7 linked regions of the Homo sapiens genome follow. The gene in region 2 interacts genetically with the main gene of each other region. Each region holds a gene or a part of one and is shown on either strand. Other genes may lie near its edges.

Region 1 (4,607 bases), on a different chromosome or scaffold from region 2:
TTTCTTATACATTTTGGATACTAGCCCTTTTATCAGATATATGGTTTGCAAATATTCTCTTCCCCTCTGTAGGTTGCTTTTTCATTCTGATTATTTCCCTTGCTGTGCAGACACTTTTTAGTTTGACGTTGTCCAACTTGTTTGTTTTGCTTTTGTTGCCTGTGCTTTTGGTGTCACATCTAAAATATCATTGCTTTTTCCCTATGTTTTTTTTCTAGGAGTTTTACAGTTTCAGGTCCTGTGTTTAAGTCTTTAATCCATGGGTAGATGGCCAAAAGGACGAAGTCAGGATCTCAGAGAGGTATCTGTACCCCCGTGTTCACTGAAGCATTATTCATAATGGCCAAGATACGGAAACAACTCATGTGTCTACTGACAGAAGAATGGATCAAGAAAATGGAGTATATTCTGACCGGGCACGCTGGCTCACGCCTGTAATCCCATCAATTTAGGAGGCCAAGGCAGGTGAATCTCTTGAGGCCAGGAGTTCGAGACCAGCCTGGCCAATGTGGCAAAACCCTGTCTCTACTAAAAATACAAAAATTAGCCGGGCGTGGTGGCAGGCTCCTGTAATCCCAGCCACTAATCGGGAGGCTGAGGCACGAGAATCACTTGAACCAGGGAACCAGGGAGGTGGAGGTTGCAGTGAGCCAAGATGGTGCCACTGCACTCTAGCCTGGGCGACAGAGCGAGATTCTGCCTCAAGAAAAAAAAAAAAAAAAGAAAGAAAATATAGTGTATTCATACCATGAAACATTATTCCGCCTTAAAAAATAAGGAAACTTGCCATTTGTGCCAGCATGAGTAAACTGAGAAGACATACTGAGTGAATAAGCCCCTTACAGAAGGATGAATACTGCATGATTCCCCTTGTATCAGATATCTAAAGGTGCTAAAGTCATATAAGCAGAGAAAAGAACGGTGGTTGCCAGGGACGGGGCGGTGGAGGAGGGAGATGGAGAGTTGTTGTTCAATGGGTGTAATGTCTCAGTTATGTAAGATGTGTAAGTTCTACAGATCTGTTGGACAAACAGAAGTGCCTATAGTTAACAATACTGTATTGTACACTTAGAAACTTGTTAAGAGGGAATATCTCATGTTAAGTGTTCTTATAACAATAGCAACAAAAAAATCCCAAACCGCCCCCAAAACCAAAGAGGCACAATGATTAAACTCACGAAACTGTGAGCGTTAAATATGTACAGCTTTTGCTGATCAATTATACCTCAATAAAGCTATTTAAAACATACAAAGAACAGGTAGACTTCTTCTGGTGCCACCAGCTCTGTCATTAGCCGTGTGACCTTCGGCAAATCCCTTACCCTTTATGGGTTTCAGTTTTATCATTCTGAAAATAAGTAACAAGCCTCTACTACCACTGTGTACCCCTCATGCTGGAAGACTGTGACGTGGGGACCCTGCTGAAAAGCAAATCTTTCATGGGTAGATCTTAGCAGTGCAGCAAGGATTTTGGAGTGGACCAGAGATCAGAGGGATGAGAAACTCTGAATATGCAGCATTTATGATGCACCTGCTAGGTGCAGGATGGCGAGAAAGCCTGACACGGGCCTGCTGATGGCAAGGTAACCAACACCCCCAGCCTGCATGTGGGAGGGAGGCAGAGGGGCCCAGAGGATGGGAGTAACTGAAAAGGTGATGGGGCTGGGCGCGGCCTGTCATCCCAGAACTGAGAGGCCGAGGTGGGTGGATCGCTGAGGCAGGCAGATTCCTTGAGGCCAGGAATCAAGACCAGCCTGGCCAACATGATGAAACCCTGTCTGTACTAAAAATCACACCTGTCATCCCAGAACTTTGAGCGGCCGAGTTGATTGGATCACTTGAGCCCAGGGGTTTGAGACCAGCCTGGTTAACATGGTAAAACCCTATCTCTACTAAAAACACAAAAATCAGCCAGGTGTGGTGGTGCATGCCCGTAATATCAGGTACTCAGGAGGCTGAGGCACAAGGATTGCTTGAACCTGGGAGGCAGAGGTTGCAGTGAGCCAAGATTGCACCACTGCACTCCAGCCTGGGCAACAGAGCGAGACTCTGTCTCAGAAAAAAAAAAAAAAAAAAAAAAAAAGAGAAAGAAAAGGAGCTGGCCCAAAGCTGGGTGGTGATGAGCCTCCTCTTGGGCCTTTGATGGCAGCAACGCCTCTCTGACCTCCTGGGGATCCACCTTGCCCCACGGAGAGGACACCTGGGGGCATTTCTTCTATGTATTCCTCCTGCTGGCCCTGGCCTTTAACACTGGGCTCTGCTCTCAGTTCTCAGTTTAGATTTGGCCCTGAACTCGAGATTTCTGACATCCCTTGGGGGCAGCTCCAAGCACCCGCCGTGTGTGATGCCTGGGACTCACTTGGCCTCTTTGCTGTTGCTGGTGTCCTCTCCTGTTTCAGGCTCATGAGATCATTCCCTATCCTCCCATCGTTCATGGCCCCTCGTGTTCAACTTAGAATGAATGCCTCGGGTGGACAAATACAGTGGAAAAATGAGGTTGAAACAGCCAGAGCTTTGAAACGCAGAGGGTTTGACAGTGGCACCGGGGACTGGTATTCTGGAAGGCACATAGGGTGGCCAACGTTTAATTCCAAAGCCAAGGTGAAAAGGTTCAACTAACATGCAGTGTGATCCTTGCCTCCACAGAGGCGTCGGGGGTCTGAGCTTAGAGGGGAAGGTGGCTCAATCACCCACCTCTCCAGGACAGAAGCCACTGCTCAGTTTGAGCAGGGCGGGTGGGTAAAGTGTAGGTACAGGAAAAACAGCCCAGTTGTCAATTTCCCCCATCAAGCGCAAATGCAACAATGAAGGTGCACAAACACTTCTCTACTTACTGGCATAGTTTTGTCTCCAAAGAAATAAATGGTCTTATAACCGTCATTTTCCACATGTCGCAGACAGTATCTCTTGTCCCATCCATCAGGAAAGACATCAAAGCTGATCTGGCCTCCTGCCGGGTGGGGACGGGGCACACAAAGGCAAAAGGTGAAAAAGGGGCTAATGATATGTCACTGAAAAAAACAATTTACTCTTTTGTCAGTTAGTGGGTTGCCAAGGTTGATTTTCAGTACTCTAGTTTGCTACTTAGACTACTTCATGCATAGGTTCTAGAAATTAATTCTACATTGTTTTTTTCCAGCATTATTTCACATAGGTCTAAAATTGAGGCACAGAATGCCAACTCAGAGTGAGAAATGCATTTGCGTTTAAGCGCCCTGTCAAGCGTGTGGTTTAAAGGAAGCATGCTTATGAAAAATCGGATACCAGCCTCATTCTGCTGTGCTTGTCTCGGGCTTTAACACACCCTCAGGGGGAAATGCCCGGAAGCAGGTTGCATCCGGCATATTTTGCGGGAAAAATGAGAATCTTCACTGAAGGTGATTTACAGGCAGTGCTCACGGGCAACAAAAACCCTTTCAAAGCTTTGTCAGAAAGATGTCCATCTCACAGTTCAGGAAGACAAAAAACCCACCCACTCATCTGTTAAATATAATCCCTTTGCCATTCCAGTTTTCCTACAACCTCTACCTTGATGAAAGCTAGTAAAATGAGGAGGCTTTGAGCAATGACTCATTAGCACTGACAAGAGAAATCGGTGTGCAAAGCATTTGGCAGGAATATTCTAACAAAAGACAAGCCTGAGATGTCCGTGCTGCAGGAAGAACTCTGCATTAGACACCAGAAACGTTCACACACTGGCTGTGTAAACAACAGCTTTGTGAACTTGGACAAGTCTCTTCTCCTTTCTGGGCCTCAGTTTCTTGATCTGTAAAAGCCACCCAATTGGCCCCTAAGGTTCCTTGCTGTTGAAACATTCTATGATTCCAAAACATCGGTCTAGTTTACCTAAGGGGTTCAATTCCATGTCTCCCTTATGGAGTTCACTATAGTGCTTCTCTTCTGCCCAAAGGTGTGAGAAGTTCCTACTCTTTAGTAATCAAAGTGCTCCTCTTTTGATGAGAGGAGTCCAGGTAGGAAGAATGCTGTTGGGTAAGAATTTAGAACCAAGCCCAACAGCGTGTAAGCTGTTTCTTGACTAGGCAAGTCCTATTATGGCTAATTATGCAGAAAAGAGAGTGGTTGGTTTTTGTCTATAGACTGGACTGCTCATTTAATCTTCCTGCCCACCTAAAACTGCACATACTTCATTATCAATAGCTCACTGGCCCACAACAAACTCTGGGAAATGGGTATCCAAGTTTGGAACACAGGCAATATATACAATACCTATGGAAAACGTGAGGCCTTTTCCAGCAAACTCTTTCCGTAGATCTGCTACAAACTTTTGTCTTATATTTTCTTTCTGAGAAAAACAAAAAGATACCAATTGTTTCTTGTATTGCAGTTTAGAAAGCACAGTTTTAACTACTGGCCACAAAGGTAGGATTATCTTATTGATTTATTTATTTGTTTAGTTTTTGAGATGGGGGTCTTGCTCTGTTGCCCAGGCTGGAGCGCAGTGGCATGATCATAGCTCACAGCAGCTTCAACCTCCCAGGCACAAGTGATCCTCTTACCTCAGCCAAACAAATAGCCGGGACCACAGGTGTGTGCCACCATGCCCAGCTAATTTTTTTTTTTATTATTTGTAGAGATGAGGTCTCACT
Region 2 (4,607 bases):
TTAAGAGATTGACTGGTCAAAGTTCTAATTTCCTACTATTTCATATCTATCATGTTTTGTTTTTGCTGGTACACCTTGGCCTAAAATATCTTTTCCCTCATTCTCTGCCTTCCAAAATCCTACTTGTTCCACCATATACAGCTGAAATGCCATCTTACACATACTTCCCTGCAGCCTAACAGGAATTAAATATTGTTTTCTCTGAACTTCTACAGTATGTTGCTTTTACCTCTACCTGGTAGTTTTGTTTATTTTTTATTCATGTGTGCATTTGTCTCTCTAGTCAACTGTGACTTCCTTAAGCTTATTCTTCTTTCTGACCTCAACAGCATCTATCACTGTGCTCTGAACATGGAAATAGTGTTTCGTGGGAGGAAAAAGCCTGGGCTTTTCAGAGTGCAGTATACCTGGATTCTGAACCCAGCTGTGTTATTTCCCATTTGTTGATATTGGGCATTAGCGAAACTTTCTATGCCTTCATTTACCCATCTAGACAGGAACTAATAATAGCTTCTCAAGGGGAACGGATAAAGATTAGATATAATAAATGCAAAATGTCTGGCAGACAGTAGAGCATCACTAAATGGTAGCGATCACAACTTTTGCTACAATGATTATAATAAAGAGCTTGTTGAATAAACTTATAAAATGACCTAGTGTCCACAGTAACTAGCACAGTGCTGAGCACATGGGGGAAGCTGGTAAATACACCTTGACTCTGGCTTGTGGAGGGTGAAGTCTCTATTGTTAGTGACCTACCTTGAACTCTTTCTCAATATTGGCCAGAACTGCCAGTTCATTGCTAAGTTCTAAAGCCGTCATGACTGGATCTTCACTAGACAATGACAGGTAAGCCGGACTTGCCAGGCCTTTATAGGCATTAATCCTAGATCTGGAGTGGCTAAACGAGTCATGCTTCTGTTTCTGGTTGCAGTCATTGCACTTGCAGAAATAATCATGAGGCCGTTCAATCCTAGCACCCTTCCGCAGGAGGGTATGCACAATTTCATATTCCTGGCAGTGGGCAGCCAGAATGATTGGAGTCACATCATGGGAGAACCGTGTCCCATCTTCATCATAGGCATAAAAATCATCTTGCTGGAGTTCAGACTGGCTAGGGCTGGTTGCTAACCTCTTGCCTTCAGCAAAAGCCGGATGACTGAGAATTGCTTCCACAATCCGAACATAACCTTTACTAATAGCTAGAAGCAAAGCATCCCCAACTCGAGAGAGGTTTTCTTTCTTGAGAAGAAGTTCTGTAATTTCCAGATGCTCATTGGCCACTGCCAACTGTAGGGCATTCTGGCCCATGTAATCCACACAGTTAACGTTGAGTGAGTGGCATTCTTCTAACATCTTCCGCACCACTGGGATGTTACCATATTCAGCTGCATCCAAAAAGCGTTCCTCCTCTATAGATAGGCTTGTGGAGCGATCACTAAACATGTATGCTGGTCCTCGATTAGCTAACCTTCTCCCCTTCTCACGGAGAACTGTCTGCCGCCGGTGAGCCAGTCTGTTGTCAGATCCCCGGCTGCAATAAAACAGAAAGATTGTAAACAAATCACATTAAGAGCATTTTAGTGTGCCAAATGACTTGCCATTCATCTAATACAATCCTCAAGTATATTAGATGTTGTCTCATCATCTCTAGACCTACTATATTATAAAATGAAGATGCATTTATTTGTTAATGGATTCCAAGAACTTCACGTCTAAGAAAGCCAAGCACTTTGCAGATTTTAACATTCCCATTTGGGGTGGAGACTAGCAATTGCCATAATTACTCTGTGCCATTCAGATAGAAACTAATGTACTATATAGATGGTATAGACTTAGGAAAGATGTCTATATCCATACCCTCTTATCCATATGCAGTCACAATGTGATAGAGAATATAAGACTACATTTTAAGAAGTAGAGACAATAGCAAATCCACTCAAGTTAACAAATATTTATTGAGTCCCTCTGATGCCAGGTCTAGGAACTATATTCGGTCCAAGAAGGCCAATAGTGAAAAAACAAATAGATGCTTTTTCCTGCCTCTACAAGTCTTATAGACCAAAGAGAGAGATGGGCAATCAGCATACTGCTTTGTTATCAGCTGCTTAATTATAATGATAAGCCTATAATGGGGCATCTATCCCAGATTCTGAGAGAAAATGACAAGCTGAAAATGGAAGGATAAGTAGAAGTCAGGTGAGAGTGTACTTCAGGAGGGTGAGACAGGGGTTAGGTATAGGTAGAAAGTTTTCTCTAGCAGAGGTATCGGCTAGATGTTAGAGTATAGGTTTCATTAATATGGGCAATAAATGCTTGAACTCTGCTGTCCTAAAAATCACTGCAGACTGGAGAAAATTATAATCAAGTTGTCAGGTAGGAAAAAACACTTCTATGGTGCAGGCAGTGGTCAGAGCAGTGGCCAGCCTTCAACGTAGTCCTTCAATCTGTGATAAGAAGGGAAAGTGAGCCGGGTGCTATGGCTCACGCCTATAATCCCAGGACCTTGCAGGGCCAAGGTGGGCGAATCACTTGCCCAGGAAGTCAAGACTAGCTTGGACAACATGGCAAAACCCCATCTCTGCAAATAATAGAAAAATTAGTGGTGCATGGTGGCACATGCCTGTAGTCCCAGCTACTCAGGAGGCTGAGGTAGAGTATCAATTGAACCCAGGAGATCAAGGCTGCAGAGAGCCATGACTATGCCTCTGCACTCCAGCCTGGGTGATAGAACAAGATCCTATATCAAAGAAAAAAAAAAAAAAAAAGGAAGGGGGCTGTGATTCTTCCTCTGATCAAAATGCTATAATGAAGATTTTTTCGTTATTAATTCATAACTTCGTGTCTTAAGGTCTTTTGAGCTTCAAGGGATCTCATTACAATTAGAGGTTCAACTCTTACCAGTATCACTAACTGAACCCAAAGAAGGCATGTTTTTGCAGAACTGGAACAGGGCCAGGTTATAGGGGAGGCTAAAGAGGCATCCCTCTTTAAAAACGGTCACAAACTTCCCAGTATAAAGAGGACAATAAAAAGATCCAAGGGCCTCATAAGCTATCTTTCCCTCCAATATGTTCAGGTCTGGAGAATCTTAGTTGCTTTCCCTACTGGCCTTTATCAGTCTTGATTCCACATCTCCAGACAGTGCTGTCTGTGGCAGTGTGATGGACAGGAATAGAAAGGAAGATAGTAAAGTTTCAGCAACTCACAAACAGATTTTGCTTCTTGGAGGAGCTTGAAGAGTATACCACCATATTGACAAATATTTTTCATAGATTTTCATTCAACAGTGATTCCTTTAACTATCCAAGTCCTATTCAAAATCAACCAAACTGATGTTTTTTTCAAAGAGACAACTTTGTAAGTTTCGAAAATGACATGAAGGGCCGATATCAAGTTATACAACCTAATAATTTCTAAAATGGGTCATTAGATAATACATATGCAACTTTTATTATAAGAGAATAGCATCTGTAACTATTTTGTCCCATAGCTATTACTTTGTTTTTAATTCCATTTTTAATTTTAGTAAAGTTATACATGTGCATATTTTAGTTTATTCTATGTCTTGATCTCCAGAGGTGATACATTTCAATTTAACTATTTTAGCTGGTTATTTTATAATTTTAAATGTTATAACCACATAGCTTTGGTTATATTGTTACTTCTTGATTTTTCAGGTTTGGCATTACCTATGGACTTCCCATTACACCATACCTTCACGTATCTCTCTCTCTCTCTAACACACACACACACACACACACACACACACACACACACACACACAGACCCCCTTCATGGTCCCTTATCATTCCAGAATTGTTATATCATGACTTTTTTTTAGATAACTATTTACTGTTTAAAACATGACAATGCAAGTGCTAATCATAGCTAAGTGGTATACTATAGTGTCTTTTCAGGTACAGCTTCCCTATAACCTTAAACCTAATAGATAAAAATTCTCTTCATTTTCTCAGTGCTCTATATACATATGACTAATTCAATCAAACTCTCTTCTCCATCAATATAAGTCTTATTTTAATACATTCTACATATTAAGTGGGTATTTTTTTTTTTCAATTTTGGAAAATCTAGACAGCAGTTGCTGTCTAGACTTGATGCATGTATGTTCTCTTTGAATCTTCCTTTGGTATCATTCCAAGGATTCTCTTCACTTTGCTTTTGTATTGGGGTCCTTGTTTTCTGTATCCCAGATCTTCTTTTATCTGAGTTGACTTCTTTGTTCTAGTACAGCACATCTTCCAACAGCTGTCTAATAAAGCATGCATAGGTGAATTTTTAAAGAACGTGTACATCTAAAACTGACTTTGTCCTACCTCTAAACTTAACTGATAGTTTGGCTGGGTAGAGAATTCAAGGTTGAGGATAATTTTGGAGGCCTTGCTCTAATAAATTATAGTTTTGTGGCTACTATTGAGAAGCATGATGCAATTTTGATTCTGGATATTGTCTTTGTCTCTGGTGTCCTAAAATTACATGGTTGTTTATTGAAGGGAGTCTCTTCTCCACAGTGCTGCCCATTTAATCTGGAATAAAAAGTGTCCTTTTCTTAGAAATAGTCTTGCCCTATTTATCTGATCATTTTG
Region 3 (4,607 bases), on a different chromosome or scaffold from region 2:
TTTTTGTTTGTTTCTTTGAGACGGAGTCTTGCTCTGTCCACCCAGGCTGGAGTGCAGTGGCACGATCTCTGCTCACTGCAACCTCCGCCTCCTGGGTTCAACCAATTCTCCTGCCTCAGCCTCCCGAGTAGCTGGGACTACAGGTGTGCGCCACCACACCTGGCTAATTTTTGTATTTTTAGTAGAGACAGGGTTTCACCATGCTGGCCAGGCTGGTCTCGAACTCCCAACCTCAGGCGATCCATCTGCCTCAGCCTCCCAAAGTGCTGGGATTAAAGGCGTGAGCCACTGTGCCCAGCCTTTTTTTTTTTTTTTTTTTTCCGAGACAAGAGTCTCACTCTGTTGCCCAGGCTGGAGCACAGCGGTGCAATCTTGGCTCACTACAACCTCCACCTCCTGGGTTTAGGCGATTCTCCTGCCTCAGCCTCCCAAATAGCTGGGATTACAGGCACATGCCACCACACCTGGCTAATTTTTGTATTTTTAGTAGCGACGGGGTTTCGCCATGTTGGCCAGGCTGGTCTCGAACTCCTGACCTCAGGCGATCCACTTCCCGACCTCAGGTGATCCGCCTGCCTCGGCCTCTAAAAGTGCTGCAATTACAGGCATAAGCCACTGTGCCTGGCCCTATCCCTTTTAATTTTCTAAGTGACCAGTAATAAACAATGATTTGTTTATTACTAGGTAGCAGGAGAAAAACTTTTTAGTCACTTTTCCAGCTAAGAATTTCATTTAAAGATACCTATGACATATCTTGTGGTACTAAGAATATTAGAGAACTGGAAATCCAGTTTTTTTGTGGTTTTTTAAGAAAGAGAATCTGACTCCATTGCCCAGCTTGGAGAGCAGTGGTGCAATAGCTGGGGCTACAGGCGTGAGCCACCACACCAGGCCTGGAAACCCAGTTTTAATTTGTGAACTACAAATGGTTGGCAACTGATTCCTTAATTGTTATTGCAGGAGTAGGCCCAACATGAGTCCATATGTAGCCCTTCTCTGGTCTGGTGGGAACTGTGGGAAATGGTGATGACCGTGACTTGAAATACTCAGAAGGTGCATGACAAACAAATTCCAAGTATTCCATCTTCCTTGGAAGATCTTCCTCTGGCCCTGGAAGGCAGCCAAGGGAAAGGTTAAATACATTTTTGACCATATATATCATTTTCATAAGATGTTAAAATTTCTAGACACTGGGAGAGACCACTCTGGGAGCAACCTGGCATTAGCCCTTGAAACATGCATTACTTTGAAATTATTCTTAATCATTTTTTCTTCTTTAACGGCTTAAAGAATATGGCATTCTCCCAAAAACAGTGATTGAACACTTGCATCATGTTTATTTTGTACCCACACTGCTCTAAGTTTACATGTATCAATACCTTCATTCCTCACATCAACCTTCTGAGGTAGGCACTATTATTATTCCCATTTTACATATGAGGAAAGTGAGGCAAGAGAGACTAAGAAACTTGCCAAAGTCACATGGCCGGTAAATGGCAGGCTGTGAACCTAGACAGTCTGGCTCCAGAACTGGTGTTCTGACCTCATGCCATGCTGCCTCGCTGTAGGACAAGGATGCATATCAGAATCTGGGGATTAGAAAGAGGAGGCAGTAGAGGAATCCCGAAGGTGATTCTGATACATCACTGCCTCTGCTGAGATCCTGATCCATAGATAAGGTAAATAAAAATTCTATATACTTATAAGCAGAAGGCTAGAATTGTTTGGTAATGTATCAAACTTGACATATAGGTGAGAATAACAGTGGTATATTATTTGTCCCTGGAGTTCTCTCCAAAAACACACTTATGCTTGTTCTCAGGATGCAAAAGTAATGATGCATGCTCACTGCAGAAAGATAAAAAGTCTGAAGTAACTGTAAAAATCTGAAAACTTTAAAAATTGTATTAATCAGTAAATTCTTGTGAGTCTATCTCACAACTGTTTTGGCAGCTTTGAAATTAACAAAAGCACAGCAGCTGCCATTTCAACTATCAGCCTTTATACTATAAAGGCCTAAGATGACATGTGTAGCATGCAGAGGCACACATATTGAGAATTTGCAAGTATGGGATAACTGGGATAGTTCTTTCCTAAATTATTTTTGAATAGGTTTGTATAAATAAGTAACCTAAATAACCTAGTTCCTGAGCAATACATTCTTGTAGTACAGTTTAACCCTGGGTCACTCCAAAAAAATCTTATCCATACCACTTCTTAGTAGATGCACATTGCTCTAACTCAAAATAACTGATAGCACTCACACTCCAGCTACATAAAATGCCTCATATTTTCTATAAAGCTCTCTAATTTTTTTGTACTTAATAATACTCATGCTTTTTTTGTTATGGACTGAATTGCATCCCCCCCCGCCACCCTCCAAATTTATATGTTGAAGCCCTAATCCCCAATGTGATGGTACTTGGAGATGAGACCTTTAGGGAGGCAATTAAGGTTAAATGAAACCATAAGGGTGGGGCCCTCATCTGACAGAAATGGTGTCCTTATAAGAAGATACACCAAAGAGCTCTCACTCCATGAAAGGCCATGTGAGGACACAGCAAGAAGGTGACCATCTATATGCCAGGAAGAAAAGCCTCCCCAGAAATCCGTGTTGCCAGCACCTTGATGTTGGACTTCAGCCTCCACAACTGTGAGAAAGTGACTTTCTGTTGTTTAAGCCACTCAGTCTGTGATATTTTGTCCTGACAGCCCAAGCTGACTAACACACTCTTTTACATAATATTGGAGAGTTAACTAAGTTAAAAAAAAACCTGTGCCATTTGTCAAACTTACCTATGATATAGGAGGCGGGATCAAATTGGTCTCTGGGGCTAGAGAGGGTAGGAATGAGCCACGTCAGTGCTGCACTCTTCTCGCAATACTGGTCCTGGATAAAACCTCTGATTTGAGCATAGTAGGGCTTTCCATCTTGTTCATCAATCACAGAAACAACATCACCAATTTGGTAATATACTCCCTGGGGGAAACAGAAGATAATCCCACATTGAAAATAAAAATAGAACATCACAGCTATGAATGAACCTTAATAGGTAAGCAAGTTTTCAAAGTGGTCAGTAAAAGGTGTTCGAGATAGTCTAATGTATCAGTGTTTATATGTTTGGTGCCAATTCTAAAGTTGTTTCACGTTTGAATGAAAATTATACATACACATACGAGGGTGCATATATGACAGTTTACATCTGGAGAAAAGATTTGTTCATAAAGTATTTTGATTTTATATTGCCGTAATACCATCCCCACTTTTTAAAAAATAGACTTTATTTTTTACAGAGGTTTTAGGTTTACAGCAAAATTGAGCAGAAGTAGAGAGATTTCCCATATACTTCCTGCCCCCACACATGCACATCCTCCCCTATTATCAATAACCCCTCCCACCACTAGAGTGGTACACTTGTTACACGGATGAACGTACACTGACATAGCATCATCAAAGACCAGAGTTCACATTAGGGTTCACTCTTGGTGCTGTGTATTCTGTGGGGTTGGGCAAATGTATAATGACATGTACCCACCATTATAGTATCATACAAAGAGAGTATTAATAGTTTCACCGCCCTAAAAATCCTCTGTGCTCCGTACTATCCCTACTTTGTTAGCCACAGTCATGAAGCAGTAGTAAGGTTAAACGGCTTGCTGAAAGCCATAGAGACTGCAGCCAAAGCTCCTACATCAGCTCAGCAGTCTTTTCTCTGTACTGTCTTGAAAATCATGCTGATTTGGTAAGAATGCATTCTACATGCCACCCTCCCCAACCATCCACTCAAAGAAAATAGATACCATGAATTCAAACCAAAACAAATTCAAACCAAAAATAATCTTTGGATTATAGTCTTCAGGATATGTTTACCTCAACCTACTGTACATCTCCTAGACTCACTGCTGCCTTTCTCTTCCACTCCCAGTTGAGTTTTATATCCTTCCACAACAGGACTACTAGTATTTCTGGCATTCAAGGCTTTGTGTCTCATTCATTTCTGTTCCACTTTATACCCAACTAACTAATGTGTACATGTCCTGTGTTAAATCCTCCCTATGACTCTGGTATCCATCCTATGTCCTCTTCCCTGGGTCTTGAGCTGGAAATAATCTCTCCTCTGAACACCCATAATGGTTGATCCAAATCTTTATGACATCCAGCACCTCCTTAAGTGGGTATAGTTCTTGGTAAGATATACTGTCCTTGACTACGGGAACAGTGTAATTCATTGCTGCTTCCCTTGAAACAGGGACTTGGCAGCAGGTAAAGCTGTAGGAATGTGTACCTCAACCATAAAAACACTTTTGAGGAAATACTTCCAGTAACTGAACTGTAACATAGCACCTGATAGGCCAGGAGTTTTTTCCTGGTGGACCCTTTATCCAAGTGTCTGAGGGTGGCTGTTTCATCTGGATCACTACGGATGGGTCTGGTCTATGCAGGCCACAGTCCGCTACTTGCTAGTTCCTACCCATCAATAGCTGGTCCTTCCTCCCAGCCATCAGTCCAAAGTTATTTATCATATAAATAGTTTGCATTTATGGTTTGTTTGTCCACATGTATAATCAATATTCCCAAATTCTAAATGAGAATACTTGCTTATCAT
Region 4 (3,477 bases), on a different chromosome or scaffold from region 2:
AGGGTAATTTATTATTGAAGAAAGAAAAATATTATTTAATAAATGTAGTGTAGCCTAAGTGTAGAGTGTTTGTAAAGTCTAGAGTAGTGTGCAGTCATACCTTAGGCCTTCACATTCACTGTCACTCACTGACTCACCCAGAGCAACTTCCAGTTCTGCAAGCTCCATTCACGGTAAGTGCCTTTTACAAGTGTAATTTTTAAATCTTTTATACTTGATTTTTACTGTACCTTTTCTATGTTTATATACATAAATACTTGCCATTGTCTTACAACTGCCTACAGTATTTAGTACAGTAGCATGCTGTGCAGGTTTGTAGCCCTAGGAGCAATAGGCTAGACCGTATAGCCTAGCTGTGTAGGAGGCTGTACCATCCAGGTTTGTGTAAGTACTCTACAGTGTTCGTACAAGGACGAAACTGCCTAATGACGCATTTCTCAGAATATATCTCTGTTGTCGAGCAATACGTGATTGTAAAATGTGAGACGACATTTGCAAAAATGTCCACTAACCACTGGGCAGCAGTGCTGTCTGTGTTCTAAATTATGGTGAGGGCTGGCTACAATGGTGCACTCCCATAATCCCAGCACTTTGGGAGGCTGAGGCGGGAGGGTGGCTTGAACCCAGGAGTTTGAGACCAGTCTGGGCAACACAGTGAGACCCTGACTGTTCAAAAAATGAAAGAAAAATTAACTGAGTGTGGTAGCAGGTGCCTGTGGTCCCAGCTACTCAGGAGGCAGAGGTGAGAGGCTTGTTTGAGCCCAGGAAGTCATAACAGTGGGGCGTGTAGGAGAGAGAGATAGGCCAATCTGTGACGGCTGGCCTATACACCTTTCTGTGACCGCCACCTCTGCAAACCAGGTAAATTCTCAGTTCAGCTTAGCAAACATTCTATAAGCGCACACCATGGACAGGCCCTTCTCTGGGTTTTAGGGCACATCATTTCACATGCTGGCTCCTTCCCCAAGGCACTCACTGATTACGGCTCTCTGGGGGAGGGAGTGCTATTTACACAAATGCAAACTGGTCTAATATCATCCAATAAAAACTCAAAAGATCACCAAGTAGGGGGAAAAAAGCACAACCAGACACCTTAATACAGGGAGAGGAAATTCTGTTAATTCCACGTTTATTAATCACACAGCTCTCTGCAGACTAGACACTAAAACACACAATTGTCAAAAACTAGAAAAATGAGTTATGTCCACGTTTTAAAAGCAAAACTTTATAAATTTCTTACCACACTCATTCCCAAGTTTTATCCCACAAAGTATAGCATGAAACAATGACAACATACATATTATTCAAGTAAAATGCTATTTAAAATAGCTGCACACAGGTAATTAAAACACTAGGATCCAGTTTTTAGAGGAAAAAGTCATGTGGCACAATTTCAAGTTCATAATTGAAGTTAACAGTAAAACAGATTTGCTCACATTTGCTTCTGATCTTTATTTCTGCTGTCTCTCTTTAGTAGAATAAAGAAATGGCACTTCACATAAAATCATATTTAAAAGCTACTAAAATGGATAAACAGATGCAGATCAGCTCTTTAATGAGAATCCCTGCATAGCTGGAGGAAGTTCAAGGATAATTGTTTTTTCAAGGCAAATAGACTCTTGTTACGTGGCTAATTTCATGTACATTATCATCGCTGGGAAGTTCCTGCTGAGAACTCACGGTAGCTATGCCAGAAAAGTACTTTCTTCACAGGAGGTGTTGAAATAATGCCGGATAAATGCAAGTAAGGTCAATATCTCCCTCTTGGTCTAGATCAGGAGCTGGCAAACTTTTTCTTTAAGGAGACAAGTAGTAAATCTTTTAGGCTTTGCAGGCTATACTGTCCCTGTCCCAACTATTCAACTCTGCCAAGAAAGCAGTCCCAGACAATACCATAAATGAATGGGTGTGGCTATGCTCTAATAACATTTTGTTTATGGACACTGAAATCTGAATTTCATAGAATTTTCAGGTGTCATGAAATATTGTTCTTCTTTTGATTTTCTGCCCAATCATTTGAAAACATATAAACCATTCTTAGCTCACAGGTTGTATAAAAACAGGTGGCAGGCCAGGTTTGATTCGTGGGCCATAGTTTGCCAACCCCTGATCTAATGGTCCTTTTCTAGTCCATGTTGTAAAATGTATATATTTTTAAAATCCCGTTACATATGGCTACTTTATTTAAAAAACAACAAAAACGTTCAGTTAAAAATAATTCTCTTTCTTCCCACAACCAAGGGCCATTTTACTAAACAATAAGCTATTTCCTTTAATTAGAAAATTGATCAAGGATATACAATGAGTCTCTGGCCTCAATTTATGAACCCATGAGCCAAATATGCAAGAAGACTCAAAATTTGCCACCCAGCCAAAGAATCTACTGGCTTACAATGTTAAAAATTTATTTGGAAGTATTCCTGCACACATCTCAGCATCGGTAATCCAGAGTTATAAAAAATAATGTTGGAGCATTTGTATTCTTTTTTTGAGGCGGAGTCTCGCTCTGTCATCCAGGCTGGAGTGCAGTGGCGTGATCTCTGCTCACTGCAAGCTCCGCCTCCTGGGTTCACGCCATTCTCCTGCCTCAGCCTCCAGAGTAGCTGGGACTACAGGCACCTGCCACCACATCCGACTAATTTTTTTTGTATTTTTAGTAGAGACGGGGTTTCACCGTGTTAGCCAGGATGGTCTCGATCTCCTGATGTCGTGATCTGCCTGCCTTGGCCTCCCAAGGTGTTGGGATTACAGGCGTGAGCCACTGTGCCCAGCCCAGCATTTGTATTCTTAATAGAAAAAGGATGGATACATCTAAATCACAAGTAATTAAAATGTTATATAAAACCACCTAAAAACTACACAAATAAAGAGAAGACATTAACTGTCAAAATGCTGAGTATGTGATTCTTGACAGGGCCGGGGCACTGTCACTAGGAGATGAATTTCAGCTCTTCCTTCTCCTTGGGACCTTGGGAATGTGGCTAGTACACTCCAGGCCAGATGCTAGGCAGCTCCCTGTGTGCCCAGGGTCTTGCCAGACCTTTAGTTACTCAACCATAGCTTCCCAGTGGCTCAATGAGGGATGTTAAATCCTAGGTGGGGTTCAGGAGTAATTGCATCCAGCACTACTTTCATTCACATTTTCCTTCCACAACCCAGAATAACCACAAGATGTAAGTGGAGTCTACACAGACAGAGATGGGGAAAGGAAGGTGCTTCGTCTCCACCTACTTGGCCGCCTAATTGGATTTGCATCTGTTTAAGATTACGGAGTCTTTCTTTCAAAGTGAGAGGCAACGCCGGTCATAGCGGCTTTTGTTTTTTGTGCGTTATTTGAATGATGAGCTGTAAAAACTCTCATTAGATAAAAGGTGCCTGAAATTCAAGGGCTCATGCCTCTTCTACAAAGTGGGTTGGCAATTACAGAAATTCTTTCCCTTTTGGGTTGACTGTGGTGAAAGTACTTTTGCTCTTTTG
Region 5 (4,607 bases), on a different chromosome or scaffold from region 2:
CGAGACCAGCCTAACCAACATGGTGAAACCCTGTCTCTACTAAAAACATAAAACATTAGCTGGGCATGGTGGCTCACACCTGTAATCCCAGCACTTTGGGAGGCCGAGGCAGGCAGATCATTTGAGGTCAGGAGTTCGAGACCAGCCTGACCAACATGGTGAAACCCCGTCTCTACTAAAAATAGAAAACAGCCGAGCATGGTGGCCCACGCCTGTAATCTCAGCTACTAGGGAGGCTAAGGCAGGAGAATGCTTGAACCCGGAAGGCAGAGGTTGCAGCGAGCTGAGATTGTGCCACTATACTCCAGCCTGGGAGACATGGCGAGACTCCGTCTCAAAAAACAAAACAAAACAAAACAAACAAAAAACATATGAGACAGATGAGTGCATAAGCAAAATATGGTTTATCGATACAATGGAATAGTATTCAGCCATGTAAAGGAGTGAAATCTGATGCACGCTACAACATGGATGAACCTTGAAAACATCATGCTAAGTGAAAGAAGCCAGACCCCAAACGACAAATACTATGTGATTCCACCCATGTGAGGTACCCAGAGCGGCAAGTTCATAGAGACAGAAAGTAGCTGGGAGGGTACCAGGGGCTGGAATGGGGAGGTAATGGAGAGTTATTGCTTGATGGTTAGTTTCTGTTTGGATGATGAAAAAGTTTTGGAAATAGGCAACAGTAATAGTTGCACAACAGCGTGAATGTAATTAATGCCAGTGAATTAACCACTTAAAAATGGTTGCAATGGCCAATTTCATTATATATATTTTACCATATTTTTTTTTTTTTTTTGAGATGGAGTCTCGCTCTGTTGCCCAGGCTGGAGTGCAGTAGCACGAACTTGGCTCACTGCAAGCTCCGCCTCCTGGGTTCACGCCATTCTCCTGCCTCAGCCTCCTGAGTAGCTAGGACTGCAGGTGCCCGCCACCACACCTGGCTAATTTTTTTTGTATTTTTTAGTAGAGACGGGGTTTCACCGTGTTAGCCAGGATGGTCTTGATATCCTGACCTCATGATCCGCCCACCTCAGCCTCCCAAAGTGCTGGGATTACAGGCATGAGCCACTGCGCCCAGCCTATTTTTTTTTTTTTTTTTTTTTTTTGAGACAGCATCTCGTTCTGTTGCCCAGGCTGGAGTGCAGTGGCACGATCTCAGCTCACTGCAACCCCCACCTCCCGGGTTCAAGTGATTTCCGGCTAATTGTTGTATTTTTAGTAGAGATGGGGTTTCACCATGTTGGCCAGGCTGGTCTCGAACTCCTGACTTCAAGTGATCCACTCGCCTCGGCCTCCCAAAGTGCTAGGATTACAGGCGTGAGCCACAGCACCCGGCCTATTTTACCATAATTTTTAAAGTTTAATGATATAATATGCTGGAAACCATTGTATACTTTTTTTTTTTTTCTGAGACAGGGTCTTGCTCTGTAGCCAGGCTGGGGTGCAGTGGCACAATAATGGCTCACTGCAGCAGCCTCAAACTCTTGGGCTCAAACAATCCACCTACCTCAGCCTCCCGAGGAGCTGGGACTACAGACTTGCACTACCAGGCCTGAATAATTTTTAAATTTTTTTGTAGAGTTGGGGTCACACTATGATGCCCAGGCTGGTCTCAAACTCCTGGCCTCAAGTGATTCAACAGCCTCTGCCTCCCAAAGTGCTCCGCACTGTGTACTTTCAATGGATAAATTATAAGGTATGTGAATGAATATCTCAAAAATGCTGTTAAAGAAGCAGACAGCCAGGTCGGCACCCGGTGGGGCTGAAATGTGGTGGAAGTTGGGGGAGTCTGACCCCAAAGGGCTGTGTGTGGCCACAACAGGCACAAGCACATGGAGCCTGGTTTAGGCCTGGCCCATAGTGGGTGCTCAGTAAATGATCACAAAGAAGGAAACTGAGGCAGGGCTCTGGGGAAGTGAGTTAGTGCCCCGGGTGGAAAGAGGCACCCACGTGTTCTGATCCATCTGTCCCCTTAGTCCCATGGCCTCCAGGGGGTACCTTCCCCAGACCAGGACAGCGGCACCTCCCGCCCAATTCAGTGTTGTCAGCTGGGGCTCAGACACCTTCCCAAGCTGCCCGCTTATCTCAGCCTCAGAGAGGGGTCAGGCGTGCTGAGGAAAGGGCAGGCCCAGTTTCTCAACTTCCACCTGCAGCCCGGGCGGTTTGGGGCGTGGATGGTCTGGGGCCTGAGCAGTTCTGTAAGGGTAGCCAAGACCAGGGACCAGAAACTACCTCATGTCAGAGCTGGAAGGGGCCCCAAATCCCACCCTTTTCACAGGTGCACCACTGAGCTCAGAGAGGACAAGCCCTGTGTGCTGAAGATAGTGCAGGTCGCCCCCAGGCAGGGATGGATATAGAGGCTGTGCAGTGGAGACAGGCGCCAGGGCAGCTGGCAGGGAGGGTGGGAGTTCTGTCCAGGCGTGTCCCGGAGGGGTGGCATGCAGGCAGGGCAGGGTGTGTGTGGGGTGTATGCATAGGTGGGGAGTGTGTGTGTGCGTGAGACAGTGTGTGTGTATGAGTGTGAGTGAATGTGTGTGAGTGTGTGCGTGTGAGTGTGTGTGTGCGTACAGGGTTCATGGGTGGAGAGGGTGGAAGGTGGGCCAGCCAGGGGGAAATAGGCGGCTCGCACTCGGGAGGTGCACACAGGGCTCCACAGGAATGCGAGTCATGCAGGGAACTGCTACAGCCAGCAGCTGTGGCCAAGGCCGAGCAGGGAGTAGAGAAAGAGCGTTTCCAGGTGGCCGGGGCTGTGAGGCTCTAGGAGAGGACACACAATGGCGAGGGGTCCCAAAGACCCTCCCACCCTAATCCTTTAGCCAGCAGGCAGCCTCCACACCTCAGGCACCAAGCATGTCCCCCGTGACCCAGCTGGCTGCCACACCCAGGGCTGGAGCCTGGCGGGGGCTCGGTGCCAGAGTCCATAACATTCCTTGGAGAATCAACAAAGTCAGGAAAGGCAGGCGGTGCTTCCCTTGGCCCCGGGTGGGACACAGCAAGTGGGGGTGGCAGCACCCTTTTCTCTGGGGCCAGAACAGGCATGAAACCTGGTTGGGTGCGGAAGTCAGGGTAGGGGACAGGGAAAGATGTGAGGGGGACCACAGGGCCTGGCAGAGCCAGCCCCCTAGTCCCACCTGGCATGCCCCTGCTTAGACTGGAGGGCCACCCAGCTTACCCACCACCCAGGCCAGGCACCTGCCAGGGCTGGGGGTTGTTCTGAAGACCCTCACCTGCCAAGTCACCCACAGCAGTCCCACTCACCCTGCGGAAGACATCCCAGGCAGGCCATGGGCCGAGCCCTCTCGCTCAGGGGCACTTGGTAGTGTGTGTAGGCTGGGGAGGCAAGGGGGCAGGATTCTGCCCACTCAGGCCTCTGCCCATGGGGAGGATGAGGGGCAGGGGCGGAGCATCAGGGCACAGGCACACACGGGGCTGTGGGGACACAGGGTGGCCAGAGAAAATCCAGGACACCCGTTAAATGTGAAATTCAGATAAAGAATAATTTTTTAGTATAAATACATTCCATATTCCGCATTTAGCGGAATTCCAAACTTAACCGGGTGTTCTGTATTTTATTTGGCAGCCCTGTGAGGACGCTCCTGGGGGCTGGCAGGGCCCCCATGGGAGAGGAGCGGCCAGGAGGCCCCCTGCAGGTATCAGCTTCTCTATCAGTCACTGTGTGACAAGCACGGACTCTGGGCCACACTGCCTGGGTTCAAATTTTCTCTCAGCTACTTCCCAGCTTTGAACCCTAGGCAAGTTACCAAATCTCTCTGAGTCTTAGTTTCCTCATCTGTAAGAGAAGGCTACTGGTACCACCTACCTCATATTAGTGTGAGCATTACATGAGATAATATGCGAAAAGCGCCTGGGACAGTGACAAAATTGTTCATTAGTATTCATCAGGCTAGCCAAGAATGGTGGCTTACACCTGTAATCCCAGCACTTTGGGAATCCAAGGCAGGAGGATTCTTTTAGCCCAGGAGTTCAAGACCAGCCTGGACAACACAGTGAGACCCCAACTCTACAAAAAACAGAAACAAAATTAGCTGGATGTGGTGGTACCCAGTCTCCCAGTCTCCTGAGTCCCAGCTACTTGGGAGACTGAGGTGGGAGGATCACTTGAGGTCAGGAATTTGAGGTTGCAGTGAGCCATGATCATGCCACTGCACTCCAGCCTGGGTGACAGAATGAGACCCTGTCTCATAAACAACTAACAACAACAGCAACAACAAAAAGTATTCACTGGGAGCCATCATGGAAAACTAGGCTCTGGCAGCAGGCAGGCATGTGGCCTTGGGCGGTGATTTCACCCCTCCGCCTTGAGCTTCCCGTCTGTAATGTGACATGAGGACAGCACCTCCCGCACAGGGATGCCTGAGGATTAAGCAGGATCAGGTCTGATGCAAGCTCAGCACAGTGCCTCACGCATGGCGGGTGCTCACTGGGCTCTAGCGCTCCTCTCTCTTCAATGATTCCCTGCAAGTCCGCAGCCCAGCCCAGGAGCGGGGGACTGGAGGGGGGACAAAGGACTCCCACTCACTGTGGGGGTGTTTTCTTCCTCCTTCCCCGCTCATCTGGGTCTCCCTAGTGTGGCCCTAAAG
Region 6 (4,607 bases), on a different chromosome or scaffold from region 2:
TTAACATTCAAGCCAAAGAACCTTCCTACCTTCCCACATCTTAAGATTCCAGGTCACAAATGTACTGCCCAGAGAAGTTACTGAAGTGGTAACTACAGGAGGTAGGAAGTAGATTTAGAGGATTCTAAGGTTTTTCCATCTCTAAAGCTTATATGATTCTGTACTCAGTTGTTTTTTTTTTTTTTAAATGGAAATGGATTCATCATTCTATTGGGGAGGTATCTTCATCTCTTTGATTCATTGCCTACTTGATTTGGAATTGAGAGGGGTGGGGTGTTTGGGAAAGCAAGCTGAAAACATTGTGATTTCTAGGTATTTATGCTGGAAGAGTTTTTTTGTTTGTTTGTTTGTTTGTTTGTTTTTGAGACGAAGTCTTGCTCTGTCGCCCAGGCTGGAGTGCAGTGGCTTGATCTTGGCTCACTGTGACCTCTGGCACCCGGGTTTTAAGCGATTCTCCTGCCTCAGCCTCCGAAGTAGCTGGGATTACAGGCACTTGCCACCATGCCCAGCTAATTTTTGTATATTTAGTAGAGACAGGGTTTCAGCATCTTGGCCAGGCTGGTCTTGAACTCCTGACCTTGTGATCCACCCGTCTCGGCCTCTCAAAGTGCTGGGATTACAGGTGTGAATCACCATGCCCGGCTAGAAGAGCTTTATGTTCATGATGCTGAGATGAAGTTGGGGCCAGAAGAAGAGTCAGTTGATAAAAGCTAAAGTATTTTTAGATCCTGATTAAAGAAGAAGGTAATGGGTTGACTTGAGAGAGAATGAGCGTTCTGTTATGGGAATGCTCATATGGGAAATGTTCTGTCTCTTTGTCAAAAACTGCAGGACCACCTGTTGGTGACATTGGAGGAATTCCTGCTTTGTGTGGGAGGGTGAACTAGATGCCTTTAAAAAAAATTTCCCCCCCACAGACTTGTTTTAGATATTTTACTGCTTCAGAGAGGGTCATGTTCACACCATTCTCCCCTTTTGTAATTTTTCACACCTCCCTGGCTCCCCTTTTATAATTTAGAAAGAGGTTTAGAAGTCTGTAACTTTTTGTATTAGATTTACTTTGAGAAATCTTGTACTTAATTTAGTAGGTCACAGAGGGTTGCTGAATGACTGGAAACTTGTGTTTCTTTTCCATTAAGGGCTATTTGCTGACTTCTGAAATATTGATGATTTATTTGACTTTAGAATTTTGCATACTGAGGGGAAAGCATCTTAATGTATCATTTAAAGCAGGAGATACTTTCATACTATACCTGGGTTCTCTTGGCTTTGAAGAGGAGGGTGGTCATGAGATATTGAAAGATTGCATGGGTGGCTTGTAATCCCAGCACTTTGGGAGGCTGAGGCGGGTGGATCATCTGGGGTTAGGAGTTCAAGACCAGCCTGGCCAACACGGGGAAACCACATCTCTACTAAAAATACAAAAATTAGCCAAGTATGGTGGCGCATGCCTGTAATCCCAGCTACTCAGGAGGCAGGAGAATCACTTGAACCCAGGAGGTGGAGGTTGCAGTGAGCCAAGATCGTGCCAGTGCACTCCAGCCTGGGCAACAAAGCGAGACCTTCCCAAAAAAGGAGGACTTCATGGGTAGATATGAGCAATGGTGAGAAGCACCTGGAATATGTCATGGAAGTCCGTGAGATAGTCATGAATGCCATTCTTTCAGCAAATATTCATGGAGTATGCCTACCAGATATGAGGTACTGTTTTAGATGCTGGGTGTAGTCAGAGTCTCTGCCCTCAAGAAATGTGTCACTTATACGATATTTATTATCATTGACTTAATATAGTGACTTAAGGGTAAAGTGCTTTGATGGCAAACTTGAGCTTGAGCAAGCATCAAAACATGGTGGATTTTGTCACTGAGTGGTTTGGCTGTATGGCTAAAGAACCTTGTTTTATTTTATTTTAGTTTTAGTTTTAGTTTTGGAGACAGAGTCTCACTCTATTCCCCAGGCTGGAGTGCAATGGCATGATCTTGGTTCACTGCAACCTCTGCCTCCCGGGTTCAAGCCATTCGCAGGCCTCAGCCTCCCGAGTAACTGGGATTACAGGCACCTGCCACCACACCCAGCTAATTTTTGTCTTTTTAGTAGAGACGGGGTTTCCCCATGTTGGCCAGGCTGGCCTTGAACTCCTGACCTCAGGTGATCCACCTGCCTGGGCCTCCCAAAGTGCTGGGATTACAGGCGTGGGCTACTACGCCTGGCCAAGAACCTTGTTTTAAAAATAGGAAGATTTTTGTCGTCTGGAATTTAGTATCTCAGAGAATAATTCTGTTTGTTTCTCAGTGAGGTTAGTTTGTGCAGTAATATGAAATGTGATCTTGTTTGGTTATTCAGGAGAAGACCTTAAAAATAGAAGTAACCTTAATTGGTAGACATTTCTAATTGGTAGACTTCAGTTTTAATTTTCAGGACACTTGAAATTGACAGCATCAGTGACAAGTTACCTTGGCTCTTGCCCTTAATCCCAGTATTTTAGGAGACCGAGGCAGGAGGATTGGTTGAGCCCCAGGAGTTTGAGACCAGCCAGGGCAACATAGTGAGAGCTCATCTCTACAAGAAAAAATTAGCCAGGTGTGGTGGTGCACGCCTGTGGCCCCAGCTATTCAGGTGGCTTAGGTGGGAGAATTGCTGGAGCCTGGGAGGTTGAGGCTGCAGTGAGCGGAAATTGTGCCACTGGACTCCAGCCTGGGTGACAGAGCTGAGACTCTGTCTCAAAAAAAAAAAAAAATCATAATCCTCATTCATCAAGCATTTATTGATGACTGGTATATACAAGGCACTGCTGTCTATTGTGGCGGATGTGAAGTGTATTTAACACTCCTGTCTTTAAAGAGTTTGGCTTTGTGTGTGTGTGTGTGTGTGTGTGTGTGTGTGTGTGTGTTTGGAACAGGGTCTCACTGTGTCACCTAGGCTGGAGGGCAGTGGCACAATCATAGCTCACTGCAGCTTCAACCTCCTGGGCTCAAGTGATCCTCCCGCCTCAGCCTCCTGAGTAATTGGGACTACAGGCATGTGCCACTGTGCCTGGATAATTTTTAAAAAATTTTTTGTAGGCCAGGCGCGGTGGCTCACGCTTGTAATCCCTGCACTTTGGGAGGCCGAGGCGGGCGGATCACGAGGTCAGGAGTTTGAGACCGTCCTGGCTAACACAGCGACACCCCCTCTCTACTAAAAATACAAAAAAATTTAGCTGGGTGTGGTGGCGGGTGCCTGTAGTCGCAGCTACTCGGAAGGCTGAGGCAGGAGAATACTTGAACCCGGGAGGTGGCGCTTGCAGTGAGCTGAGATCGTGCCACTGCACTCCAGCCTGGGCGACAGAGTGAGACTCTCTCAAAACAAAACAAACAAACAAAAAATACATACATAAATACATTTTTTTCTTTTGTAGAGACTGGGTCTTGCTGTGTTGCCTAGTCTGACCTTGAACTCCTGGGCTCAAGTGATGCTTTTGCCTTGTGCTCCCAAAGTGCTGGGATTACAGATGTGAGCCATTGTTCCCGGCTGATTTTGTATTTATCATTATAATACAAAGTAGAGGATATGTGCTCTGCATGTGGCATAGCAATGTAAGTATCAAGTGGAATTAAGGAGTAAAGGTGAAGTGGAAAAGTATTTCTCTGCCTAGTAGAAGAATATTGCATTGGGTTTCAAATAGATAATTTGCCCTAAAATGTTGTGTGCAGATCATATTTTTTATAAATTTTTAAATTTGTTGCCTTGTATTTCTAATTTCAGAAATGCTTTATTTTTATTTCTGATTGAGCGTAAGATGTCCACTGCTCTTTTAGCATTTTTCTCAACTTTTCAGCTTCTCTGCCAGTTGGTAATTTGTAAATTGAGAAATATTTTGTGTCATCAATTCTATTTTATTTATTTATTTATTTGAGACGGAGTCTCACTCTGTCGCCCAGGCTGGAGTGCAGTGGCTCGATCTCAGCACACTGCAACCTCTGCCTCCTGGGTTCAAGCAGTTCTCTGCCTCAGACTCCAGAGTGGCTGGGACTGCAGGCACATGCCACCACGCCCGGCTAATTTTTGTATTTTTTAGTAGAGATGGGGTTTCACTGTATTGGCCAGGCTGGTCTCTTAACTCCTCACCTCGTGATCCACCCGCCTTGGCCTCCCAAAGTGCTGGGATTACAGGCATGAGCCACCGCACCCAGACGTCGATTCTATTTTGTAGTAGATTTTTAAAAAGTAGATATATTATTCTAAAAACATGCCAAATCAGTTTGTGTTACAGCTTATCTTGCTTTGTATCAATAGGAAAATAGCTTAAATATATAGGTTTTATAAGAAAGAAGCAAGAATCATTCATGAGGAAGGAATTTATAAGGATTTTATATTTACAAAGTAAGAATCAGGCCTGGCATAGGATTACATCACGCCTGTAATCCTAGCACGTTGGGAGGCTGAGGTGGGAGGATTTCTTGAGGCTAGGAGTTGGAAACAAGCCTGGACAACATAGTGAGACCCCATCTCTACAAAAATTAAAAATTAGCTGAGTGTGGTGGTGTGCGCCTGTAGTCCCAGCTACTCGGGGCCGAGGTAAGAGGATTGCTTGAGCCCAGGGTGGGGAGGTCGAGGCTGCACTGTGA
Region 7 (4,607 bases), on a different chromosome or scaffold from region 2:
AAGGTCACCTAGACAGTTACCTAGTCCAACACCTCCATTTTACACAACAAGGAAACTGAGTTTGCGAAAGAAAAATAACTTGGTCAAAATCACACACCTAGCAAGTGGCTGAGGCATATTTACTCCCTGTACCATGTTTTCACTATACCAACCTGACTCCTCAACCAAATATAATGCATAAAAATTTTAATTCACATCACACTAAGGCCAACCAAGACACCCTACCTGCCAAATAAAAATTTTATAATGCCTGACAATATCAATCAGATGTCAAAACAAATATAAAATTAAGAAAAAACTATAAATGTTAATTGGCATAATAGAAACATGAATCCCTAACTTCAAAAACTACAAACTTTCAAAGAATAATTTGGAAGATACTTTGATGTCTACTTTCATACAAACATATTTTCATACAAACATTGATCATTAATTCTAATGTGAGTCTGATGCTGATAAATACCTAAAGCAAAAAATTTCCCTCTATGTATTATCACTGAACTTATTTATGGCATGACATAACTTAAGACTCACCTGCAGGACTGTCAGCATTCTCTCCTGGATGTAGCTGTATACCAGCAGAATCTATAGAGTTCACTGTAACTGTTTGTAGATTTGGCAACTGACCAGTGCTTAGACTAACTGGAGTTGAAGTGAAGGCTCCACCTGCCGCAACTTGACCAAGTGTGAGGGTTTGAACAGGCGTCAAAGTTATTTGTTGGGCAGCAGTATTCTGTATTTGCAAATTCTGCAAGTTCTGGACCCCTTGTACTTGAAACGTTTGCCAAGTTACCTGTCCAGAAGGGGTCACTGTCTGTGCCTGAATTAAAAAGGTTCCAGGATTCAGCTGCAACTGAAGATTTTGCAAAGCCTGTTGTGATATATTTTGACCACTGGCTTGCACACCATGGATTGTCTGTGGTGTAATACCTTGCACAATTTGGGCTTGACTGGTTGGCTGCTGAGACTCTTGAAGTTGTAGATGCTGTACAACAGGCTGTGCTGTAGAAACCTGAATATTCTGTGCCTGTGTCTCTTCAGAAACAGGCGACTGGATATAATTTCCCTGAAGATCTGAAGAATGAACCTGCCCACTAGATGTAGTCAAGCTATTTGTGTTTTGTTGTAATATACCTGTACTATCTATCGTAACAGGCAACTGTGATGAAGAGGATGTTGGCACAAATAAATCTGTATCAGTATTAGTTTCATTAATATCAGGAGAAACCCGCTCACCAGTCCTTTCTGAATTGTCTGAACTATCCATAGCTTGTCCTGTGTTTATCAAATGTCCGTCGGCATTAATGCCTGCAGTCATTGTCTGAGAACTGCCCGAGAGTCCCAAAGAATCTAGATCGACACTATTGATTGGTACAAACGTAATATTTCCTGGCAGACCAAGAGGCACATTAGCAACTACTTGGGTTTGACCAGGAAAAGATGAACCACCAATTGCAACTCCCTGAACCTGGACTTGACCAGTCTGTGGTATGAGATTCTGGATGTTAGCAGAAGGTGTTCCAGAGGCAAGTAAGGTTTGATTAGAGCCAGGAATGATCTGAATTTGACTGCTTTCTTGATTTATACCCCCATTATCTGAAGAGCCTGTGAAACCAATTTGAACCTGCTGACCATCTGCTGACTGGATCTGTGGTATCACTTGATATTGAACACTGGACACTGTACCATTTGATGAATCTGATCCTGGTGCAACGGAAAATATTTGTTGATTCTGCAAATTCTGAAGGGGAAGAACATACTGCCCACTTGAAGTAGCAGCACTTGGAATCTGGACTAGATTACCAGCTTCATCTTTTATAGTTGTAGGTGTGGCTGACAAAACCTCCCATCGGTTTGGTGCTCCTCCTAACTGTGCAGAAGCCAAATCACCTGTCTGGATGAAGAAAACAAAAAGGTGATATATTTGTGGTATATTTAAATCAACCCTCAAAAAATTCTAAAAACTGGTATAAATCCTACTACCTGAAAATTCAACTTATCTTAAAACACAATGGAGTTCAAATACAGGAGCAGTACTATATGAACTACAATAATTATCACTTCCAGTTTTGTTACTGCAAAGACAATTCATCCTATTTGAGTGGGATAAAAAAAATTCTCGGAATGTTCATCACAACCACAGACCAATTTTCTAATCCTGCATCTATGATCTCTAACACTACACAGTTAAAACACAAAACAAAACAGTGGAGATGGCTATGACCAAATCAGGTGCATTATATTTGTGTATAAAAAGGAAACATAAGCATAGTGTATTAAGTCATCCGACTTAGAAAAGATTTATTGCTATAAGCCTAAAATCAAACAATGAAATCTACTCTTTTGTGGCATCTATTAACATACTCTAAAGTAAACTCATGGCTAGGGCTATTCCATTAAGCTATCAAACTCTACTTTTTCCATGAACTAATGAAAAACAAAGACCTTAAAAAAACTTAATGAGAAAAAGTCATTGCCCTGTGACCACATGACAACGTAGCCCCATTTGAAAGGTTTCTCTAGGATCAGAAGCTGGAGGATACACACTGTGACTTTACTTACTAGTCTAAGTTTTCAGTAGAATGTCTGGCATATACCTTTTGTATTCTGGTGTATTAATACAATTTGAGGGAGAGAAAGATAATCTAGGGTTTCATTATATTCTCAATGGGAATCTCAATGGGACCATAAAAATCAGTTGAGACATACACAGTTCTCTCAACATAAACCATTCTATAAAACTTAATGCAAATATGATAAACAAAAAAATCTTAAGTTTCTTAAAGAAACTCACTACCTAATTTTCATGAAGACATAGTTGAGAAATATATACAGTTATTTCAGTGGATGAACCACAGTTAAATGACTGAATTCAAACATTTGAACGTAATTTACCAAGATGAAATACACACGTGAGTAAACCCATGACATACAATCCCAATCTTCAAACGGTTCACTGTCAATCCAAGCAGACATACACACATCCATGCTAATACAATGTGAAAAGTAGCACAGACTAGTCATATGATCAAAACACTCTGTGGAAGACACAAGATTGAAAAAAAAGATTTCATACAGAGATAAAGTAGTATTAGAATATAAGATTTTCCTGTAGTCAGTTAAAAAAGAGGCACTAATAAAAGCATAGAAACAATAAAATCACAAAAAGAAACCCTAAATAATAATATGCAGTTTGGAGTTGAAGAAAAGATCCCAAAAAGGCTCATATTCATAGAGGAAAGTAATGGGGAACAGGACTAGATATTTTTATCAACGCTTGTAAATGGCTTCACAGATCCCACTAAATTGTTTAGACTTTATCCTGTAGATAGTGAGTGAAAGCTATAAAAGGTTTATAAGCAAGTGAGTGGTGCAATCACATCTGTGTCTTATAAAGATAAACTAAGGCTCAATGAAGGAGACTGAAAGAAAGGGAGGAGACTAAAGGCTGAGAAATTGTGGAACCCAATACAAATCTCTAGGCCTGAACTATAAAATAGCGATCTGTCTTAAATACACTTAAATTATATTTACTAAACAATTTTAAAATGAAGCATCAGACATTAAAGTCACATGTCACTCTGCAACTTCAATCTGGTATAGAAATTACAATGTTAAGTCACCTTTCCTAACATTACAGTGACAAATGTTTCATTTCGGTCTCTTGGCATTTTAAGTAAACTACAAATATTTAAATCTATATACTAAAATCTACACTAAAGTGTGTCTAAAATCTAACCTTTATCTTCTTAAGGTTATTGCTCACCTGGAGGATCCACTGAAATTTTTTCTGACCAGCATAAAATTTACAGGTATTGAACTTTTATCAAAGAATATAGTAACTCAGACACAAATTAATTTTATGATACTGGCATTTTGTCCCTTTTCCTTTCTTTAAAAAAAACAAAGTCAAATTTACAGCACCTAAAGTGTTTTTTTTTTTTTTTTACAAAATAGTAATAAAGGCAGATATTCAACCATCACTGAACAGCTTTCTAGTCAAGAAATTCCTTGAAAATAAATACAGCTAACGCAAATGACAAATCTGAGTAAATATTGCCCAAGTCATCCCCTCTCCAGAAGCTAGATAAAAATAAACTGTAGTGCCATTTTTCTCAGCAATTCAGGCCATTAATTGAAGGAAAATCTCTAAACCTAGAGCAAAGTGATGTATTCCGAACTTTTCTGAATAAGCCTGAAATGAAAAGCATTATTAAAATACCTGTGAAGCACAACGATGGGGGAAAAAAAAAAAAAGCAACAGGTAATTTAAGGAAAAGAATCAAGCAAGAAAAGGAACTTTTTTAATTTAATAAATTTGCAGTTTTAAAAAAATTTGCTGAATACCCTATTTTCTAAATGGAATGGAAAAAACACATTGAATCAGAAAACTACTAGATGATTTATGCCAAAACTACACTCGACAATATATTACACAAGAAAAAAAAAAAAGCTCAGAACTGAGTTCTAGTTCTGGCTACACTGTGGAATTGTGTGAGTTACAGCAACTCAATTTTCTCATGTCAACAACCGGAAAAACATTACCTTGCAGGGGCATAAGAATCAGAAGAAAAATATTAAATTTTATAAACTATTGAGCACTGTGC

What was found.
Region 1: changes in TRPC6 (region 2) and PMM2 together harm fitness less than expected from each alone (positive genetic interaction), as found in Homo sapiens cells (one large-scale study listed by BioGRID).
Region 3: changes in TRPC6 (region 2) and GATAD1 together harm fitness less than expected from each alone (positive genetic interaction), as found in Homo sapiens cells (one large-scale study listed by BioGRID).
Region 4: changes in TRPC6 (region 2) and ALDH5A1 together harm fitness less than expected from each alone (positive genetic interaction), as found in Homo sapiens cells (one large-scale study listed by BioGRID).
Region 5: changes in TRPC6 (region 2) and PLCD3 together harm fitness less than expected from each alone (positive genetic interaction), as found in Homo sapiens cells (one large-scale study listed by BioGRID).
Region 6: changes in TRPC6 (region 2) and WDR20 together harm fitness less than expected from each alone (positive genetic interaction), as found in Homo sapiens cells (one large-scale study listed by BioGRID).
Region 7: changes in TRPC6 (region 2) and SP3 together harm fitness less than expected from each alone (positive genetic interaction), as found in Homo sapiens cells (one large-scale study listed by BioGRID).

What each region holds. Positions count from the first base shown.
Region 1 is NC_000016.10:8,811,334-8,815,940, reverse strand, and holds part of PMM2 (phosphomannomutase 2), read right to left. Parts: intron 4,304-4,607; coding exon 4,228-4,303; intron 2,951-4,227; coding exon 2,835-2,950; intron 1-2,834. UniProt on the Homo sapiens protein: Involved in the synthesis of the GDP-mannose and dolichol-phosphate-mannose required for a number of critical mannosyl transfer reactions.
Region 2 is NC_000011.10:101,503,265-101,507,871, forward strand, and holds part of TRPC6 (short transient receptor potential channel 6), read right to left. Parts: intron 1,535-4,607; coding exon 760-1,534; intron 1-759. UniProt on the Homo sapiens protein: Forms a receptor-activated non-selective calcium permeant cation channel. Probably is operated by a phosphatidylinositol second messenger system activated by receptor tyrosine kinases or G-protein coupled receptors.
Region 3 is NC_000007.14:92,452,875-92,457,481, reverse strand, and holds part of GATAD1 (GATA zinc finger domain-containing protein 1), read right to left. Parts: intron 2,981-4,607; coding exon 2,797-2,980; intron 1,111-2,796; coding exon 920-1,110; 3' UTR 1-919. UniProt on the Homo sapiens protein: Component of some chromatin complex recruited to chromatin sites methylated 'Lys-4' of histone H3 (H3K4me), with a preference for trimethylated form (H3K4me3).
Region 4 is NC_000006.12:24,534,828-24,538,304, reverse strand, and holds the end of ALDH5A1 (succinate-semialdehyde dehydrogenase, mitochondrial isoform 2 precursor), read right to left. Parts: 3' UTR 1,098-3,477; downstream 1-1,097. UniProt on the Homo sapiens protein: Catalyzes one step in the degradation of the inhibitory neurotransmitter gamma-aminobutyric acid (GABA).
Region 5 is NC_000017.11:45,125,260-45,129,866, forward strand, and holds part of PLCD3 (1-phosphatidylinositol 4,5-bisphosphate phosphodiesterase delta-3), read right to left. Parts: intron 1-4,607. UniProt on the Homo sapiens protein: Hydrolyzes the phosphatidylinositol 4,5-bisphosphate (PIP2) to generate 2 second messenger molecules diacylglycerol (DAG) and inositol 1,4,5-trisphosphate (IP3).
Region 6 is NC_000014.9:102,145,819-102,150,425, forward strand, and holds part of WDR20 (WD repeat-containing protein 20), read left to right. Parts: intron 1-4,607. UniProt on the Homo sapiens protein: Regulator of deubiquitinating complexes. Activates deubiquitinating activity of complexes containing USP12. Anchors at the base of the ubiquitin-contacting loop of USP12 and remotely modulates the catalytic center of the enzyme.
Region 7 is NC_000002.12:173,954,339-173,958,945, forward strand, and holds part of SP3 (transcription factor Sp3), read right to left. Parts: intron 1,895-4,607; coding exon 535-1,894; intron 1-534. UniProt on the Homo sapiens protein: Transcriptional factor that can act as an activator or repressor depending on isoform and/or post-translational modifications. Binds to GT and GC boxes promoter elements. Competes with SP1 for the GC-box promoters.